3 linked regions of the Homo sapiens genome follow. Each later gene encodes a partner of the first gene's protein in a complex. Each region holds a gene or a part of one and is shown in the gene's direction. Other genes may lie near its edges.

Region 1 (5,359 bases):
CCAAAGGGAGTGTGCATGCCGTTCTTATAGACGTCTTGAGCTGCAAGCCTGTTATGTGTATCGTTAGGTGCTTTGGTTAGGTGTTTTTTAACTTCAGAAGTTTAACGTCATTTCAAAGGCCTCCTTCTCATAATGGAGTATTTCCTCCATATGCACATCCTGAGCAAAGGTAACCCCAATTAAAGTAGTAGCTCAGAGTTTTAAAAGTTTTAAAGTGGCATACAACAGTAGAATTGGGGCTCATCAATTATCAATTCTTTCACCCTTCAAATAATTCTTTTCTTTATTCAATGCCTGTAGCTATTGCATTAATGACCACAGCGGTCATCTCTACCTGCGACCATGGTATAGTAGCCAAGATCAAGAGAGTGATCATGGAGAGAGACACTTACCCTCGGAAGTGGGGTTTAGGTCCAAAGGTAAGTGGTACTGGGTTGCGTGCCCTGCCAGGTTCTTTTTTTTTTTTTTTTTTTTTTAAATTTATTTTTTTATTGATAATTCTTGGGTGTTTCTCACAGAGGGGGATTTGGCAGGGTCATGGGACAATAGTGGAGGGAAGGTCAGCAGATAAACAAGTGAACAAAGGTCTCTGGTTTTCCTAGGCAGAGGACCCTGCGGCCTTCCGCAGTGTCTGTGTCCCTGATTACTTGAGATTAGGGAGTGGTGATGACTCTTAAGGAGCATGCTGCCTTCAAGCATCTGTTTAACAAAGCACATCTTGCACCGCCCTTAATCCATTTAACCCTGAGTGGACACAGCACATGTTTCAGAGAGCACAGGGTTGGGGGTAAGGTCACAGATCAACAGGATCCCAAGGCAGAAGAGTTTTTCTTAGTGCAGAACAAAATGAAAAGTCTCCCATGTCTACTTCTCTCCACACAGACACGGCAACCATCCGATTTCTCAATCTTTTCCCCACCTTTCCCGCCTTTCTATTCCACAAAACCGCCATTGCCATCCTGGCCCGTTCTCAATGAGCTGTTGGGCACACCTCCCAGACGGGGTGGCGGCCGGGCAGAGGGGCTCCTCACTTCCCAGTAGGGGCGGCCGGGCAGAGGCGCCCCTCACCTCCCGGACGGGGCGGCTGGCCGGGCGGGGGGGCTGACCCCCCCCCACCTCCCTCCCGGATGGGGCGGCTCCTGCCAGGTTCTTTTGTTTGGCATTGTTGAATACTTGGGCAGCTCTTGGTGTGTTTCACCACCACAGCCTTGTATTGTGCTGGGCTCTGGGTTGTCGATGAGTGGAAACAGGCCCTGTCTTGGGCCTTAGAGATTTCAGTCTAATGAGGGGAAACAGTTGGGCATTACTCACGTAATCACACAGTGGAATGGCGAATTTCATGCACGTTAGTGGCTACCAAGGAGTGCAGAGAGGTGTCTGTCACCTGGAGTGTCCACAGTGGTCAAGGAGTCTGGTCAAGGGATTGTCTGTTAAGCCACACCGGTGTGAAGAGTGGGTTAGGTGTTGGTGAAGTGAAGAGGGGAGGGGAGAGTTCAGGGCATTGGGAGCAAGCAGCATGTGCAAAGGCAAAAAAGTAGAGTGGCTGCGGTGGGGACGTTATGTCTGCAGAGGCTCTCACTAATAAGCTTTGTGATCTTCAACAAGTCCTGTGTGTGTTGGAGTTAGTGGGCAAATTCTGAATGCTCTGGAGAGGAGTTTGAGGCCCTGCTGAGAATACACCAGGGAGGAACCTTGTTCTATTCTTTGTAGTCACCATGCCCGCTTCCAGCATTGACACCATTCTAATGTTGACACCTTGATGTTCCACCAGGCAAGTCAGAAGAAGCTGATGATCAAGCAGGGCCTTCTGGACAAGCATGGGAAGCCCACAGACAGCACACCTGCCACCTGGAAGCAGGAGTATGTTGACTACAGGTGAGGGCAGGATGTTTCAGAGCCGGGGTGGGTAGAGACGGCACACTTGCTGCCTTGATGCAGGAGTATGTCAACAACAGGTGAGGATGGGAAGGTAGAGCCCACTTGCCATCTGGACGCAGGAGTACATGGACAACAGGTGAGGAACAGGTGAGCATGGAGGTTGTAGAGCCCAGGGGAGGGGGAGTCACTTGGTTTGGGGCAAACTTGCTAAATGCAGGACCACAGGAACCAGCTCTTCAGCTCCCGTGAGATTTTGGCTGCCCAGGCCAGTTAGGGGTGTGGGCCTGCACGGCAGACAGTTATCCCTTTCTAGTCTGGCTCGTGGGACTCTAGAGGGAGTCAGTCTGCAACAGTAAGTGGTGAGTTCTTCTGTCCAGCGTCAGTATTTTGATGGTGGCTTTAGACTTGCCAGATAACACTACATAACATCAGTACTGCCCTGGAAAGCCATTCAGTGAATTTGACCTATTGCTACCTCTTTTTCAGTGAGTCTGCCAAAAAAGAGGTGGTTGCTGAAGTGGTAAAAGCCCCGCAGGTAGTTGCCGAAGCAGCAAAAACTGCGAAGGTGAGTGGCATGCTGTCCTCAGTTTGGAATGTGCTTAGGGAGATAATCCTAAGAGGCACTGGCATTCGTCTTACTTTGTGACTGTCCGCAGTCCAGCCATATACGCTAGCATCAGAGGTGCAGCGCATACACAGGTAATGCTGCCTCATACCCTGGGGTGCTTGTTTGGGCTCTGCAGGCTCCTCTGATTTGTATTCTCTGTCCTATCTGCTGGGAGGAGGAATGTGGGCTCAGGAATCAGATGGGCCTCGACTCCTACCTCAGCTATGGCAGCAACACAGTGATGGAATGGGTGGTGGTGTGTGTGTCAATTCTGGCCCCCGCCCTGGGTCAAATGGTAGGACAGATGTGTTGAAATCAGAGGCCATGGCTGTTGGACATTCGAGGCCATACAAAATTCAGCAGAGAGCAGAATTGCATCTTAACCTGGCACCACCCAGTGTTGAAAGAGTCAGTCAAGCATGGGTTGGCAACTCCACCCCATGGAGCTGCTGGCATTAGAGCACAGAATGACAGGTCTGCACTCAGAAACCGGGGGCGGTACTGAGTATCCTGCACAGGCTGTGTGGGAGGAGCTTCTGACTTGTCAGATGTGAATTCCTGCTTTGCCTGCTTTCTGTGAGAGGTCCTTGCAGTCATGAGAGAAACAGCTCCTCCGGGCCTTTCCACCCCAAGCCCCGTGCTGCTGCTGTGCTCCTTCTCTTGTGCCTGCCTCAAGGCTTCTTGGATTTGGGGGATGAGACTGTCTTCAAATCCTCAGTAAACTAAGGCCCTGTCCGGGTTTGTAGTCAGAAAACGTCCTGTTAGATTCAGTTGGGATCTTTCTTGGTGCCTTGCTACCTTTTGACTCACTGAACCTTTCTTGTCCATTATTGCCCAAGATCTAACACTTAACCAATTGCTTTCATCTCAGCGGAAGCGAGAGAGTGAGAGTGAAAGTGACGAGACTCCTCCAGCAGCTCCTCAGTTGATCAAGAAGGAAAAGAAGAAGAGTAAGAAGGACAAGAAGGCCAAAGCTGGTCTGGAGAGCGGGGCCGAGCCTGGAGATGGGGTGTGTGGAAACACGTTCAGGTTCCTTGGGCTGGCTTAGTCCCTGCGTGGGGAAAGAATTACCCAGGTGGTACCAGCTTTGTTACTCTTCTTGGAGGAGCTGTGGCCTGGGGGTGGGATGCCACCGAGTGCCTTTAGTGCTTCCCCATGTTCCTGGAGTGCTTTTGCCCTCCCTGTGGAATGGACAGATAGAGGCACCCGACCTCTACCACTTATACTTAGAGCTCTATTGATGGTGGGTGGAGAGGATGTGTAGGATGGTGATCTGAATGTTTCCACTTCCAAAAGTAGACCACTAGGGTGTCACTGAAAGGTTTACAGAACTTTGTGTCACATGCAGCATTTAACCCAAAATATCCTTACAGGTCCTGAAAAAGGCTTGCTTGACTGTGGACCTTTACCAGATTTCCTTCTGGGAGAGTCATAGCTTTGTTAGTGGATGGTATCTGTGAGCTTTCATTCTCTTTCTTTCTAGGACAGTGATACCACCAAGAAGAAGAAGAAGAAGAAGAAAGCAAAAGAGGTAGAATTGGTTTCTGAGTAGTGAAGGCCACTTGAAGCTGGAGGAGAAACTAAAGCCTTATTGAGAAAACATGTTATAGATCCTTTTGTTGCTGAGAGAGTGGAACATAGGTCCTAGACAGGGTGAAGAGTTCTGGCACATTTTAGCTGCTACTTTGAGACCTCGGTGATGTTACCTGGTGTGGTCATCCCATCTTGTCCTGTTTTAAGGATATGGGTGGTGAAAGATGAAAGAGGCAGAGTTTATCCCAATGACTTCTCTGTTTGAGTTGGGAAGCCTCACCTTCAGACCCAGTAACTGTCCGCAGCTGTCTGCTAGTGGTTGTCTTAACATCGTAGTCCTAGTTTGCATTTTTTAAATCCCCTCTGTTTAAAAGGTTTGTAAAACAAAAACAAAAAACTAAGTCTGCTCAGTGAAATGCTGTAGAACCCTAAATAAGTGGTAGAAGAGTGTCACTGAATTTTGTCTCTGAATTCAGTATAACTGAGTTTTGTCCATGCTGGTGTCTGGGTTATAGGCCTGATGGGCCTGGTAGTTTTCCATCTTGTTCTGGCCTAGAGGTCAGTCCTTTGCACTTCCTCAAAGCTTGTGTACAGTGCTCACCTAAATCCATCTGACTACTTGTTCCTGTGCCCTCTTGTTTTAGGCCTCGTTTACTTTTAAAAAATGAAATTGTTCATTGCTGGGAGAAGAATGTTGTAATTTTTACTTATTAAAGTCAACTTGTTAAGTTTTTTATGTATTCCTGTTGGGTTTTCTTGTTGATCTCATGCTAGCAGAGCAAAAATTGTAAAATATTTTGATTAAAAATCTAGGGACCTTTATGTCCTATTTGAAATGTGATGCTTTTATGTTTGTTTTCTGGTTTTTACATTTTTGTTCTGTATCTTACACAATCCACCTTGGGCCCTGTCATCTGATGTGAGATCAAGTACTCAGAGGCAGTGATTACCACAAAACCACTGATCTCTAGAAGAACAGAGAAGGAGAGGGTTAATGTATTTATACATAGTGGGCCTGGCAGGAGCGGGGGGCAGGGTGAGTCGGGAGAACGAAGCTGAGGGTGGGGACATGCAGGAATCTGAAGGCCTTGGTGACAGATTAGTGGAAGAAAGGTCTAGGGTTGCTTCCGATTTGGTATTAAGAACCAAGAAAGAGGCCGGGTGCAATGGCTCACACCTATAATCCCAGTGCTTTGGGAGGCTGAGGCGGGCAGATCACCCGAGGTCAGGAGTCTGAGACCAGCCTGGGCCAACATGGCAAAACCCATCTCTACTACAAATACAAAAATTAGCCAGGTGTGGTGGCGTGTGCCTGTAATCCCAGCTACTCGGGAGGCTGAG
Region 2 (5,559 bases), on another chromosome or scaffold:
AGTCTAGGCCGGGCATGGTGGCTCATGCTTGTAATCCCAGTGCATTGAAAGGCTGAGGTGGCTGGATTGCTTGAGGCCAGGAGTTTTAGACCAGCGTGAGCAACACAGACCCCTGTTTCTACAAAAAAATAATTTTAAAGATTAGCCGGGCAGGCTGGGCGTGGTGTCTCATGCCTGTAATCCCAGCACTTGGGAGACTGAGGTGGGTGGATCACGAGGTCAGGAGTTCAAGACCAGCCTGGCCAAGATGGTGAAACCCCGTCTCTACTAAAAATACAAAAAAATTAGCCGGGCGTGATAGCAGGCGCCTGTAATCGTAGCTACTCAGGAGGCTGAGGCAGAGAATTGCTTGAGTCTGGGAGGCAGAGGTTGCAGTGAGCCAAGATTGTGCCACTGCATTCCAGCCTGGGCGACAGAGCGAGACTCCGTCAAAAATAAATAAATAAATAAATAAATAAATAAATAAGCCAGGTATGGTGGCTTATGCTTATATTCCCAGTTACTAGGGAGGCTGAGGCCAGGGGATTGTTTGCTTGAGCCCAGGAGTTTGAGGTTTCAGTGAGATGATTGCGCCACTGTGCTCCAGCCTAGGCAACAGAGTAAGACCCTGTCTCTAAGAAAAGAAAAAATTAAGTCTAAAGACCTGCAAGACAACGTTAGATACTGTTTTTTTTCCCATATGAATATACTCCTAGGCTGGGCGCAGTGGCTCACACCTGTAATCCCAGCACTTTGGGAGGCTGAGGCAGAAAGATCACTTGAGGCCAAGAGTTCGAGACCAGCCTGGCCAACGTGGCGAAACCCTGTCTATACTAAAAATACAAAAAATTAGCTGAGCATGGAGGTGAACTCCTGCAATCCCAGCTACTCGGGAGGCTGAGACACAAGAATTGCTTGAACCTGGGAGGTGGAGGTTGCAGTGAACTGAGATCGTGCCACTGCACTCAGCCTGGGTGACAGAGTGAGACTCTGCCTTTAAAATTAAAAAAAAAAAATTTATATATATATATATATTTATATATATATATATATTTATATATATATATATATATATATATTTATATATATATATATATATTTATATATATATATATATTCCTAAGGAAATGTATGACAGTGATAAATTCAAGATAGTGTTTACCTCTGAGGGAGAGTTTCTGTTAGGAAAGGGGTTTAAACATATCTTTTTGTTCAGCTGGATGGAGGGGTCACAGGGCTGTTTTTTTAATAAGATACTTTGTATGTTTGAACTGTTTAATTTTTTTTCTTTATTTTTGTAAGGAGGTTTTTTTGTTTCCATTTTTGTATTTTTGAGACAGTGTTTCTGTTGCCCAGGCTGGAGTGCAGTGGCAATGATCTCAGCTCACTGTGGTCTCTATCTCCTGGGCTCAAGCAATTCTCATGCCTCAGCCTCCCTAGTAGCTGGGACTACAGGCATGCACTACCATGCCCAGCTAATTTTTTTTTCTTGTAGAGACAGTGTTTCACCATATTGCCCAGGCTGGTCTTGAACTCCTGGGCTCAAGTGATCTGCCTGCCTCAGCCTCCCTAAGTGCTGGGATTACAGGTGTGAGCCACTGTGCTCAGCCGATAATTTTTTTCTTTTCTTTTTCTTTTTTTTTTGGGGGGCACTGTCTCTCTGTCACCTAGGGTGGAGTGCAGTGGTGCGATCTCAGCTCACTGCAACCTTTGTCTCCTGGGTTCAAGGGATTCTCCTGCCTCAGCCTCCTGAGTATCTGGGATTACAGGTGTCCACCACCACGCCTGGCAAATTTTTGTACTAATATTTTTTTAAAGGATCAAATGGCACCTAGCATGTACTCAGTAAGTATTTGAATAATTGGTTGGTTCTTTGTCTCTGGGTTGAGGTATTATTATTTGTTTCTTCCTCTCTAAGTGTTTATAAAGAAAAAGTATAAGGCCCGGCACGGTGGCTCACACCTGTAATCCCAGCACTTTTGGAGGCTGAGGCGGGTGGATCACCTGAGGTCAGAAGTTTGAGACCAGCCTGGCCAACATCATGGTGAAACCCTGTCTCTATTAAAAAAAAAAACAAAAACAAAATTAGCCAGGCATGGTGGTGCATGCTCTGTCTCAAAATAATAAAAAAAAAAAAGTATGAATCTATATGGCTTTTGGTGGCTAAATTTGACATTAAAGTCTGAGCTCACCCTTGAACATTGAGACAGAGTCTGTGCTCCATATATACACCCCATCTGCCACAACACTGCTAGAGGCACGCGCCTCAGACTCCTTTTCCCTCCGAGTGACTCAGCCATTCCCCCGTCTCTGTATAGGTCCCTGTCCTTCGAATGGTGGAAGGTGATACCATCTATGATTACTGCTGGTATTCTCTGATGTCCTCAGCCCAGCCAGACACCTCCTAGTAAGTAATGTTTGCCTCCCTGCTCGCCGCCCCACCACCCAGTTTCAAGCAGGGCCTCTTGGGAGAGTCAAGGGCTGCCAGGGGTCTTTGGAGGAGGAAGGCTTGGCATGCTTATCAGAGGGGCTGGTCAGTTGGCTTCCTCCCCTTCCTTTTTTTTTTTTTAGATTGAGTCTCCCTCTGTCACCCAGGCTGGAGGGCGGTGATGCAGTCTCAGCTCACTGCAACCTCCGCCTCCCAGGTTGAAGTGATTCTCCTGCCTCAGCCTCCTGAGTAGCTGGGATTACAGGTGTGCACCACCACACCCAGCTAATTGTGTATTTTTCATAGAGATGGGGTTTCACCACGTTGGCCAGGCTGGTCTCGAACTGACCTCAGGTGATCCACCTGCCTTGGCCTCCTGAAGTGCTTGGATTACAGGCATGAGCCACCACACCCAGCCTCATTTTTGTATTTTTAGTAGAGACAGGGTTTCACCATGTTGGCCAGGCTGGTCTCGAACTCCTGACCTCAAGTGATCCACCTGCCTTGGCCTCCCAAAGTGCTGGGATTACAGGCATGAGCCACTGTGCCCGGCCATTCCTCCCCTTCCTTTGACAGCACCGGGGTTTCAGTGTCCATGTCTCTCTCAGCGTGGCCAGCAGCAGCCGGGAGAACCCGATTCATATCTGGGACGCATTCACTGGAGAGCTCCGGGCTTCCTTTCGCGCCTACAACCACCTGGTAGGGACCGCCATACTCAGCCCCAGCACTCGTACTGGCCCGGCTCTCCTTCCTTGAGGGCAGCTGAGGCTTTGCAAGACCTGTTTTCAGCCCTTTCCTTCCCCCAGGATGAGCTGACGGCAGCCCATTCGCTCTGCTTCTCCCCGGATGGCTCCCAGCTCTTCTGTGGCTTCAACCGGACTGTGCGTGTTTTTTCCACGGCCCGGCCTGGCCGAGACTGCGAGGTCCGAGCCACATTTGGTAAGCATCTGTGCCTCCAAGGGAGGAGGAGAGGGAAGGGCACTGCCACCTGCACAGGGGCCTTTTGTGAGCCGGGGGCCACCTGTGGGGGTTCACGCCGTCCTCTGTACGGCCCCGGGAGCAGGTGCAGCCCAGTCGGCAGAGGAGCAAACAGGCTCAGAGCAGGTAGGAAACCTTCCCAAGGCCAACCAGCTGGTCAAAGGACTGCTTCCTTCCTGAACTCATACCCTGTCAGCTGTGGAGCTTTTGGTCTCTGAAATCTTTCTAGAAAATTGTTGATAAAGCTGATTCCGTTTTCCTGTAGGCCTTCAACTTGCATCTCTCCAAGGAAGAACTGGGATTTGAGAGGGATGAAGTGGGGCTTGGGCATTTAGGTCCTTTGGGAGGATAGATGTGGGGAGCATCAGAGGTCTTTGTCCTGCTTGTGACAGACAGCATGGGGGGGATGTTGAGTCCAAGCATGTTGGTGCTGGGACGGGAGACAGACCTCTGCTTAGCCTGGTTAGTGCCAGGAGCCATTGCCCCCTCCCCCACTTTGTTCCTTCCCTCTCTAGCAAAAAAGCAGGGCCAGAGCGGCATCATCTCCTGCATAGCCTTCAGCCCAGCCCAGCCCCTCTATGCCTGTGGCTCCTACGGCCGCTCCCTGGGTCTGTATGCCTGGGATGATGGCTCCCCTCTCGCCTTGCTGGGAGGGCACCAAGGGGGCATCACCCACCTCTGCTTTCATCCCGATGGCAACCGCTTCTTCTCAGGAGCCCGCAAGGTAGGGGTCACACCCTGAGAGCCCAAAGCAGCTGGGCAGCGGGGCAGGAGCAGGGATGTAGTCTGCAGTGTAGGGGAATGGGTGGGGATGGGGAAAAAATCCCAAGCTGAAGGAGTGCCTGGAGACCCCGAGGGAGGCAGGGACATCCAGGGCTTTGGGGGTGACTCCAGGTCCTGTTCCTTGTCTCCAGGATGCTGAGCTCCTGTGCTGGGATCTCCGGCAGTCTGGTTACCCACTGTGGTCCCTGGGTCGAGAGGTGACCACCAATCAGCGCATCTACTTCGATCTGGACCCGTGAGTGGCTGTGACTCCTTCCTACACAGGGCCCTGATAAGCCTAGGAATGCCAGAGCCCAGCTGTAGGGTCCCAGTCCCTGGGTGTGAGGGGTTCCTGCCCCAGGGGTGAGGCCTCTGCCAGCAAATCTCTCCTCTCTCTCGCAGGACCGGGCAGTTCCTAGTGAGTGGCAGCACGAGCGGGGCTGTCTCTGTGTGGGACACGGACGGGCCTGGCAATGATGGGAAGCCGGAGCCCGTGTTGAGTTTTCTGCCCCAGAAGGACTGCACCAATGGCGTGAGGTCCTCAGTTCAATTCCAGAGATGTTGGGGCTTGGGTTGGGGAGGGAGGTGAATCCCAGAGGGAGCAAGTGTCCTCACTGAAGGCACTGATAGACCCTCCCCATCTCTCCCTCAGCCTGCACCCTAGCCTGCCTCTCCTGGCCACTGCCTCCGGTCAGCGTGTGTTTCCTGAGCCCACAGAGAGTGGGGACGAAGGAGAGGAGCTGGGCCTTCCCTTGCTCTCCACGCGCCACGTCCACCTTGAATGTCGGCTTCAGCTCTGGTGGTGTGGGGGGGCGCCAGACTCCAGCATCCCTGATGATCACCAGGGCGAGAAAGGGCAGGGAGGAACGGAGGGAGGTGTGGGTGAGCTGATATAAAAAGGTTTTTATGATACTAGAGTCTTCGTGTCTGTTTTGGGGGGGCATATGAGTGAGGTGGGGGACCAGGCAGGGGGACTGGCGGGCTCCCTGGTCCAGCAGCAGTGGGTATGGCATATTGGTCCTGAAACCAGGCGTTGAGAGGTGGGACCAGGCAGGAGCCAATGGGGCGGCTGAGCTTGGTGTGAAGTCAAGTGGGTGGGGGTGGGGCTTCATGCCATTGACTGGTTGGTTGCTAGGCAACTTGGTAAACTGAAGGGGGAAACCTGTTTGAAATCTCACTCCCAAGGTGGGGGCGGCAGGGGTCAGGGTGAGCGGGGCTGAGCAGGAGCTGGGTCAGACTGTTGGGTGTGACCGTGTGAGACTGTGCAGACAGTGACAGGGCGCCTGTCGCCCACACTCCACACTGTTTGCCATTCTCCAGCAGCATGGGGACCATTACTCAGCTCTGAGGGGAGCAGGAGCACTCTCCTCCGCTCCCCGGGGCTCCCCAGGAGGCAGACAACCCAGTTGCCA
Region 3 (7,553 bases), on another chromosome or scaffold:
TAAAGGGTACAGCGTTTCTTTTTTCTTTTCTTTTTTTTTTTTTTTTTTTGAGGTGGGGGTCTCACTGTGTCACCCTGGCTGGAGTTCATTGGCACAATCACAGCTCCCCACAGCCTTGATCTCCCAGACTCAGGTGGTCCTCCTGCAGGTTAGTCTCGATCTCCTGGGCTCAAGAGATTCTCTCCTGGCCGGGCGCGGTGGCTCACGCCTGTAATCCTAGCACTTTGGGAGGCCGAGGCGGGTGGATCACGAGGTCAGGAGATCGAGACCATCCTGGCTAACACAGTGAAACCCCGTCTCTACTAAAAATACAAAAAATTAGCCAGGCGTGGTGGCGGGTGCCTGTAGTCCCAGCTACTCAAGAGGCTGAGGCAGGAGAATGGCGTGAACCCGGGAGGCGGAGCTTGCAGTGAGCTGAGATCGTGCCACTGCACTCCAACCTGGGTGACAGAGCAAGACTCCGTCTCAAAATAAATAAATAAATAAATAAATAAATAAATAAATAAATAAATCCTCTCCAATTTTTTAAAAGATGGACCTTAGTCCATCTAGATCTAACTTTCTCACTTTATGGTGAAGCACTGACGCCCAGAGAGGCTAAATGACTTGCCTAAAGTCATTTGTCATTTAGAGCTCTGGACCAGTGTCCATTAATTTTTATGTTATCAGCCACTGTACACTGCTTAAAGTAAACTCAGCTGGGCACAGTAGCTCACACCTGTAATCCCAGCACTTTGGGAGTTCGAGGTAGGCAGATCACGTGAGGTCAGGAGTTTGAGACCAGCCTGGCCAACATGGTGAACCTCTGTCTCTACTAAAATACAAAAGTTAGCCAGGTGTGGTGGTGCATGCCTGTAATCCCAGCTACTTGGGAGGCTGAGGCATGAGACTCGCTTGAACCCGGGAGGCAGAGGTTGCAGTGAGCCGAGATTGCGCTACTGCACTCCAGCTGGGGCAACAGAGCGAGACTCCATCTCAAAAAAAAAAGAAAAAAGAAACAAAAAAGTAAGCTCAAATAGCCATTCCAACAAAATCCATAAAGTAATAAAGTCATGCAAAACAACCTGGGTTCAGAACAGATTTCTGAGTCTGGCTTTAGAAATACACAATGTGTTGGCTGGGCGCAGTGGCTCACACCTGTAATCCCAGCACTTTGGGAGGCCCAGGCAGGCAGATCACAAGGTCAGAGATCGAGACCATCCTGAATAACACAGTGAAACCCCGTCTCTACTCAAAATACAAAAATTAGCTGGGCGTGGCCGGGCGCAGTGGCTCACACCTGTAATCCCAGCACTTTGGGAGGCCGAGGCGGGTGGATCATGAGGTCATGAGTTCAAGACCAGCTTGGCCAAGATGGTGAAACCCCGTCTCTACTAAAACTACAAAAATTAGCTGGGTGCAGTGGCAGGCGTCTGTAATCCCAGCTACTCGGGAGGCTGAGGCAGGAGAATCGCTTGAACCCGGGTGGTGGAGGTTGTGGTGAGCCAAGATCGTGCCACTGCACTCCAGCCTGGGCGACAGAGTGAGACTCTGTCTCAAACAAACAAACAAACCAACAAAAATTAGCTAGGTGTAGTGGCAGGCACCAGTAGTCCCAGCTACTCGGGAGGCTGAGGCAGGAGAATGGCGTGATTCCAGGAGGCAGAGCTTGCAGTGAGCCAAGATGGGGCCACTATACTCCAGCCTGGGTGACAGAGCGAGACTCCGTCTCAAAAAAAAAAAAAGATAAGAAATACACAGTGTGTTAACAACAAAAAAAGAAAACAGGCCAGGTGCGGTGGCTTACATCTGTAATCCCAACACTTTGGGAGGCCAAGGCGAGTGGATCACTTGAGGTCAGGAGTTCGAGGCCAGCCTGGCCAACATGGTAAAACCCTATCTCTCCTAAAAGTACAAAAATTAGCTGGGCATGGTGGCGGGTGCCTGTAATCCCAGCTACTTGGGAGGCTGAGGCAGTAGGATCACTTGAATCTGGGAGGCAGATATTGCAGTGAGCTGAGATCATGCCACAGCCTGGGTGACAAAGGGAGACTCTGTCTTAAAAAAAAAAGGGGGCCGGGCGCGGTGGCTCATGCCTGTAATCCCAGCACTTTGGGAGGCCGAGGCGGGCAGAACATGAGGTCAGGAGATCGAGACCATCCTGGCTAACACGGTGAAACCCTAGTGAAACCCCGTCTCTACTAAAAATACAAAAAATTAGCCGGATGTGGTGGTGGGCACCTGTAGTCCCAGCTACTTGGCAGGCTGAGGCAGGAGAATGGCGTGAACCTGGGAGGCGGAGCTTGCAGTGAGCCGAGATGGTGCCACTGCACTCCAGCCTGGGCCAAAGTGCGAGACTCCATCTCAAAAAAAAAAAAAAGAAAAAAAAAGAAAAAGAAAACACTGTGGTTTTCTGAAGACATATTTGTTCTCAGCACTTCATTGTCTTATGGCTCAAAATGCAGACACGTGTGACCTGGGCCAAGCTGAGGTTCCTACACTTTCACTATTTACGTATCCTTTTGAGCTGAAGTCAAATGTCAAATCACAGGTATGGGTAAAGTCTGGGCTTGGAGACAAGTGGACCTGGGTTCAAATCCAGCTTTGTGTGAGCTGTACCAAACTATTCATCTTTATGTGTGTCAGTAAATTGTGAATATAAAGTTATATATTCCTGGTAAAAGGATGGTAAAGTCTTTACCTTTACCATAGAGGTATTTTTTGGTGAGCACTGAATGAGATATTGTATATAATATGCTCGCCACATAAATGTTAACTTTCTTTTTCCTTCCATGTAAGAGCTGAAGGGACTTCACAACCGAGGCTCTGAGTGAGGTCAGTCAAGCGAGCCCATTTGTTTGAATTTGTTTGAACTGGGTTCTCAGGAGTGAAATTCTCCATCACTCTGCTGGACAGAGTGATTTTTAGTAGAGACGGGGGTTTCACCGTGTTAGCCAGGATGGTCTCGATCTCCTGACCTCATGATCTGCCCGCCTCGGCCTCCCAAAGTGCTGGGATTACAGGCACCGCGCCCAGCCTATTTGTTTTTATTTAATGCAAAACAAAATTTATTGCACTTTAGTTCAGAGTTACAAGGTTTTTGTTGTTGTTGTTTTGTTTTAGAGACAAGATTTTCCTGGGTGGCCCAGACTGGAGTGCAGTGGCTATTCACAGGTGCAGTCATGGCTCACTGAAGCCTCTAACTTCTGGGCTCAAGCGAGCCCCCTCTCAGCCTCCCGGGTAGCTGGAACCACAGGCACGAGTCACCACACCCGGGAAAGGCCAATTTTTAAGTTGGTTTAACTGACCTGTGTTCCCACCCACAACTACCGGAACACTTCTAAGTTTCTACTTACTGGCCTGTTCCAGCAACACAAAAATGGCAGGCCTGCCACATCAGGATCAAAGGTAATTAGTATTACAAATTAGTAATTTGCAGCGATTATCTAATTAATATCCATCCAGAGTTCCAAAATATAGTGGAAGAGGCTAATCAGAGATACCAAGATCCACTGGATCTCGGCCTGCCACCGCCCCCCACGCCCTGGCAGCTCTGTCCCTTTACCTTCTACAGACCCGTCCAAAGGGTAGCTCCTCATAGCTCTCACCCTGCACGGCAGGGAGCTCAGTCCCCAAAGCCTTCCCTCCGCTGTTCCCGGCTTCGCTGGAGCCGTCCTTCCCTCAGCCCCGGCTGGCTTCTCGGCTAGGCCCTCTGCATGTGTAGCGTCAGGCAATGGTAAGAACTGCGGGAAAATAGCGGGTGAAGGGATGCTGGTTTGGAGAGAGAGGGGACGGCAATTTTAGATAAAATCACCAGGGAAACCTCTCCCATGGGAAACACTGAAACGGAACCCTGCGGGATGAGAGTGAGCCACACGCTATCTGTGGAAAAGCGGTGCAGACGCAGGTCAGTGGGGTCATCCCTTGCTCTGTATCTTTCACACCTGCGCAGCCGGGTCCAGGGGTCAGAAAACAAAGAAAAATTATGCAAGAAAGGAGGCAGCCTTAGGCCGGGCGCGGTGGCTCACGCCTGTAATCCCAGCACTTTGGGAGGCCGAGGCGGGCGGATCGCCTGAGGTCAGGAGTTCAAGACCAGCCTGACCAACATGGAGAACCCCTGTCTCTAGTAAAAATACAAAATTATCTGGGCGTGGTGGCGCATGCCTGCAATCCCAGCTACTCGGGAGGCTGAAGTAGGAGAATCGCTTGAACCCGGGAGGCGGAGGTTGCAGTGAGTCGAGATTGCGCCACTGTACCCCAGCCTGGGCAATAAGAGCGAAACTCTGCCTCAAAAAAGAAAAAAAACGAGGCAGCCTTTCCAGCACCCAGAGCCCCGCCCTCTCCGGCCCCGATTCCCAGGGCTCCGCCCCTTGCCTCACATTCCCTCCGCTCCGCCCTAATCGGTTCCGCCCAGTCCCTTGGTCCGGGGATGGCCCCGCCTTAAGGACCATGACTCCGCCCCTCTCCGCTCTCCGTAGTTACGAAGCTGGGCGTCAACGATTGGGCTGAGTCGGAGACTTCCTTTCCTGATTGGCCGTGTTGTACGGCGGCTTCTCGCGCAGCTGATGACCTGGAAGTGATGCCTAAAGCTGTGGACCGCGTGGGCTCGCCTCCCTGGGACTAGGTTTCAGCGGCCGCTGCGATGACCAAAATAAAGGCAGATCCCGACGGGCCCGAGGCTCAGGCGGAGGCGTGTTCCGGGGAGCGCACCTACCAGGAGCTGCTGGTCAACCAGAACCCCATCGCGCAGCCCCTGGCTTCTCGCCGCCTCACGCGGAAGCTCTACAAATGCATCAAGAAAGGTGAGGCGGACGGCGGCGTGGCCGGGATGGGTGCGCGGGTGGGATGGGTGCGCGGGTGGCTGAGCGAGGCCCCCGACCGACTCTTCTGTCGTTGCAGCGGTGAAGCAGAAGCAGATTCGGCGCGGGGTGAAAGAGGTTCAGAAATTTGTCAACAAAGGAGAAAAAGGGTAAGAACCTTCCTTCCTCTGGATTTTGCATTTCTAAACGTTAACGGAGAAATCTCTACTTAGTAGGCGCGCAGTAAAAAGGTTAACTCTGACCTAGCCCCATATACAGAAGCCAATCAAGCAGTCGGTAAAGTCCCTTTGGTACAATACCGGTACGACAATACCGGTACACCACGTATACCAGCTCAAAGTGAATTCCAAAGTGAAGCGAATTGTGTAAGCAAAGTCCCTTAGAGTAAACCCACCTTCATTAATTCAGGGACCCTCCTCCCCGGGCTCCGCTCCTTGCCTCAGATTACCTCCGGCCCCCGCCCTAATCCTCTCAGCCCTGAATCTCAGTCCTAGGGATGACCCCTCTCCGGCTCTGTATTTAAGGAACTGAACGTTAACGTTTTTGTTTGTTTTTGAGATGGGTCTAGCTCTCACCCAGGTTGGAGTGCGGTGGTGCGATCACAGCTCGCTGCAGCCTCGTCCCCCTGGGCTCAAGCGATCCTCCCACCTCAGCCTCCCGAATAGCTGAGACCACCGGCTTGCGCCACGCCTGGCTGTTGTTATTGTTGTTTTGCAGAGACAGAGGAGTCTCGCCATGTTGCCCGGGCTGGTCTTGAACTCCTGGGCTCAAGGAATCCTCCTGCCTCAGCCTCCCGAAGCGTTGGGATTACAGGCATGAGCCACCGCGCCTGGCAGCCTTAACAATTGAATGTACTCTTTTTCAGGCACTGTGTTATGGGGGAAACAGTGACATTCATTCATCAGATAATGACACACACACAACTAATTACACGTTGTGATAGATAGCCATGAAGGAAAATAACAGAGTGCAATGATAACTTCATCACCCCACTTTTCTTAATGGCATTTATCAAAGTTTGAACCTTGTTTACATTTTTCTTCCCTTTATCACCCTCTCAGGCCAGATGGTAAGCTCCTTCAGAACAGGGCCTCCTTGCTTTATCCCAAGAAGTGAAACTGTAGGTGCTCAAGAGATCAATAATGTTGGGCAGACTTGATGCTCAACGGCATCTAACCTAGCTGGGGAGGGCGCATCTGGGGAAGTTTCCCTCAGCAGTCACATTTGAGCTGAGGTCTTAAGACACAGGGATTAATTGGGGGGTGGGTGGGAGGATTCTGCCAGAAGAAAGAGTGGGCCTCTGGGCAGGAGAGGGTCTGGTGAGCAGAAGTGCTACCTTCTTAGGGGGCCTTGTAGGACACAGTAAATTTAGTTTTTATACTCAGCACTTTGGAGGCTATTAGGGGTTAAAGCCAGGAAGTGACATAATTTTTATTATTTTTTACACCCTAAGATTTTTCTGACAATTGAAGAAAGGATTAGAGAGGTACGAGTAGGTTTGGGAAAGTTCAGGTAGTAGACTACTGTAGTCCTGGAGAGGTGATGGTGGAGACAGAGTTAAAGGGGACAGATTTGAAAGGACTTTCAGATGTGGAGAATGGGGAGGTATTGACGACTTCTAGGTTCTGACATGCCCAGCTGGAGGGACAGAGGGCCCAATCTTGAGATGTGAACAGTGGAGGGGGACCAGATTTGTGTAGAAAGATCACAAATTTGGGTCTGGGTAAGTTTTTGAGGTGCTGTAGAGACACATGACTTCCACCCCGCCCCACACCAGGAGAACTGTCAAACAGGCAGATGGCTATAGGGGTTTGGAGCATGGAAGAGAGAGGGCCAGGCTGGAGATAGTACATCTGGGAGTTTTCAGCACATAGATGGCACCTGACCCCATGGCAGTGGCTCCGGTCAGCCAGGAAGAAGGTCCTGAGAGGAGAGGGCAGCCGAGGACAAGGCTGTGAGGAACACTCACAGTGAAAGGCGCTTAACAGAAGGGGAGCCAGCAGAGGGCCCAGAGGAGCACTAGGAGTGCGGAAGCATTCTTTCAGCCGAGGGCTCTGTCCTTGTGTGTCCGCCTGTTATCCAGCATGGGAGAGCAGACTTTTCCTTCTGTGTCTTAGGCTCCTGAGGCCCTTGCCCCCCAGCCTTGACACCTGGCCAGCTAGGAACCCTGGCTGAGTCTCTGGCAAGCTTTCATTGCCTCACTGTCACTCTTGGGACAGAGCCCATGCTTCTTAGCCTGGTACTCAAGGTCTTGGGGGTGTCCCCTGCCAGTCTCTCGGCTGTGTCTGGTGCCGTTCTGATTCTCACACCACATGCTCTCCCCCGCCCCAGCCCCTCCGTGGGCTGCCTGCCACACAGTCATCCATCAGCGTGCTGTTCAAGTGTCACCTCCTGGTTGAACCCTTTTTTGACTCTCCAAAGAGAGCTGAGCTCATACACCTTGGCACCCATCCTGTACTTCACCTGTCCGAGCACTACATCACTTTGGTGGCACCTGTATGTTGCCAAGAGGTAGAGATCACCCCCAAATAGTGTGCTCACCAAACACAATTTTGTCTCTATCCCTAAGACCCAGCCCAGGGCAGCACTTAAAACTGAAAGAAGGAAGGAGCAAGCCAGAGATGACAGTGTTTTCTCTCATTTCAGGATCATGGTTTTGGCAGGAGACACACTGCCCATTGAGGTATACTGCCATCTCCCAGTCATGTGTGAGGACCGAAATTTGCCCTATGTCTATATCCCCTCTAAGACGGT

The links. Proteins that work in one complex are often made in the same cells at the same time.
Region 2: DKC1 (region 1) and WRAP53 share a complex: the UniProt entries of both Homo sapiens proteins name them as parts of the telomerase holoenzyme complex.
Region 3: DKC1 (region 1) and NHP2 share a complex: the UniProt entries of both Homo sapiens proteins name them as parts of the H/ACA small nucleolar ribonucleoprotein (H/ACA snoRNP) complex.

What each region holds. Positions count from the first base shown.
Region 1 is NC_000023.11:154,772,831-154,778,189, forward strand, and holds the end of DKC1 (H/ACA ribonucleoprotein complex subunit DKC1), read left to right. Parts: intron 1-300; coding exon 301-419; intron 420-1,771; coding exon 1,772-1,875; coding exon of another isoform or gene 1,876-1,879; exon of another isoform or gene 1,880-2,364; coding exon 2,365-2,443; intron 2,444-3,356; coding exon 3,357-3,494; intron 3,495-3,968; coding exon 3,969-4,037; 3' UTR 4,038-4,859; downstream 4,860-5,359.
Region 2 is NC_000017.11:7,698,444-7,704,002, forward strand, and holds the end of WRAP53 (telomerase Cajal body protein 1), read left to right. Parts: intron 1-2,297; coding exon 2,298-2,386; intron 2,387-3,015; coding exon 3,016-3,106; intron 3,107-3,213; coding exon 3,214-3,346; intron 3,347-3,900; coding exon 3,901-4,109; intron 4,110-4,299; coding exon 4,300-4,403; intron 4,404-4,549; coding exon 4,550-4,684; intron 4,685-4,799; coding exon 4,800-5,043; 3' UTR 5,044-5,059; downstream 5,060-5,559. UniProt on the Homo sapiens protein: RNA chaperone that plays a key role in telomere maintenance and RNA localization to Cajal bodies. Specifically recognizes and binds the Cajal body box (CAB box) present in both small Cajal body RNAs (scaRNAs) and telomerase RNA template component (TERC).
Region 3 is NC_000005.10:178,150,886-178,158,438, reverse strand, and holds the start of NHP2 (H/ACA ribonucleoprotein complex subunit 2), read left to right. Parts: upstream 1-4,553; 5' UTR 4,554-4,621; coding exon 4,622-4,781; intron 4,782-4,878; coding exon 4,879-4,948; intron 4,949-7,445; coding exon 7,446-7,551; intron 7,552-7,553. UniProt on the Homo sapiens protein: Required for ribosome biogenesis and telomere maintenance. Part of the H/ACA small nucleolar ribonucleoprotein (H/ACA snoRNP) complex, which catalyzes pseudouridylation of rRNA.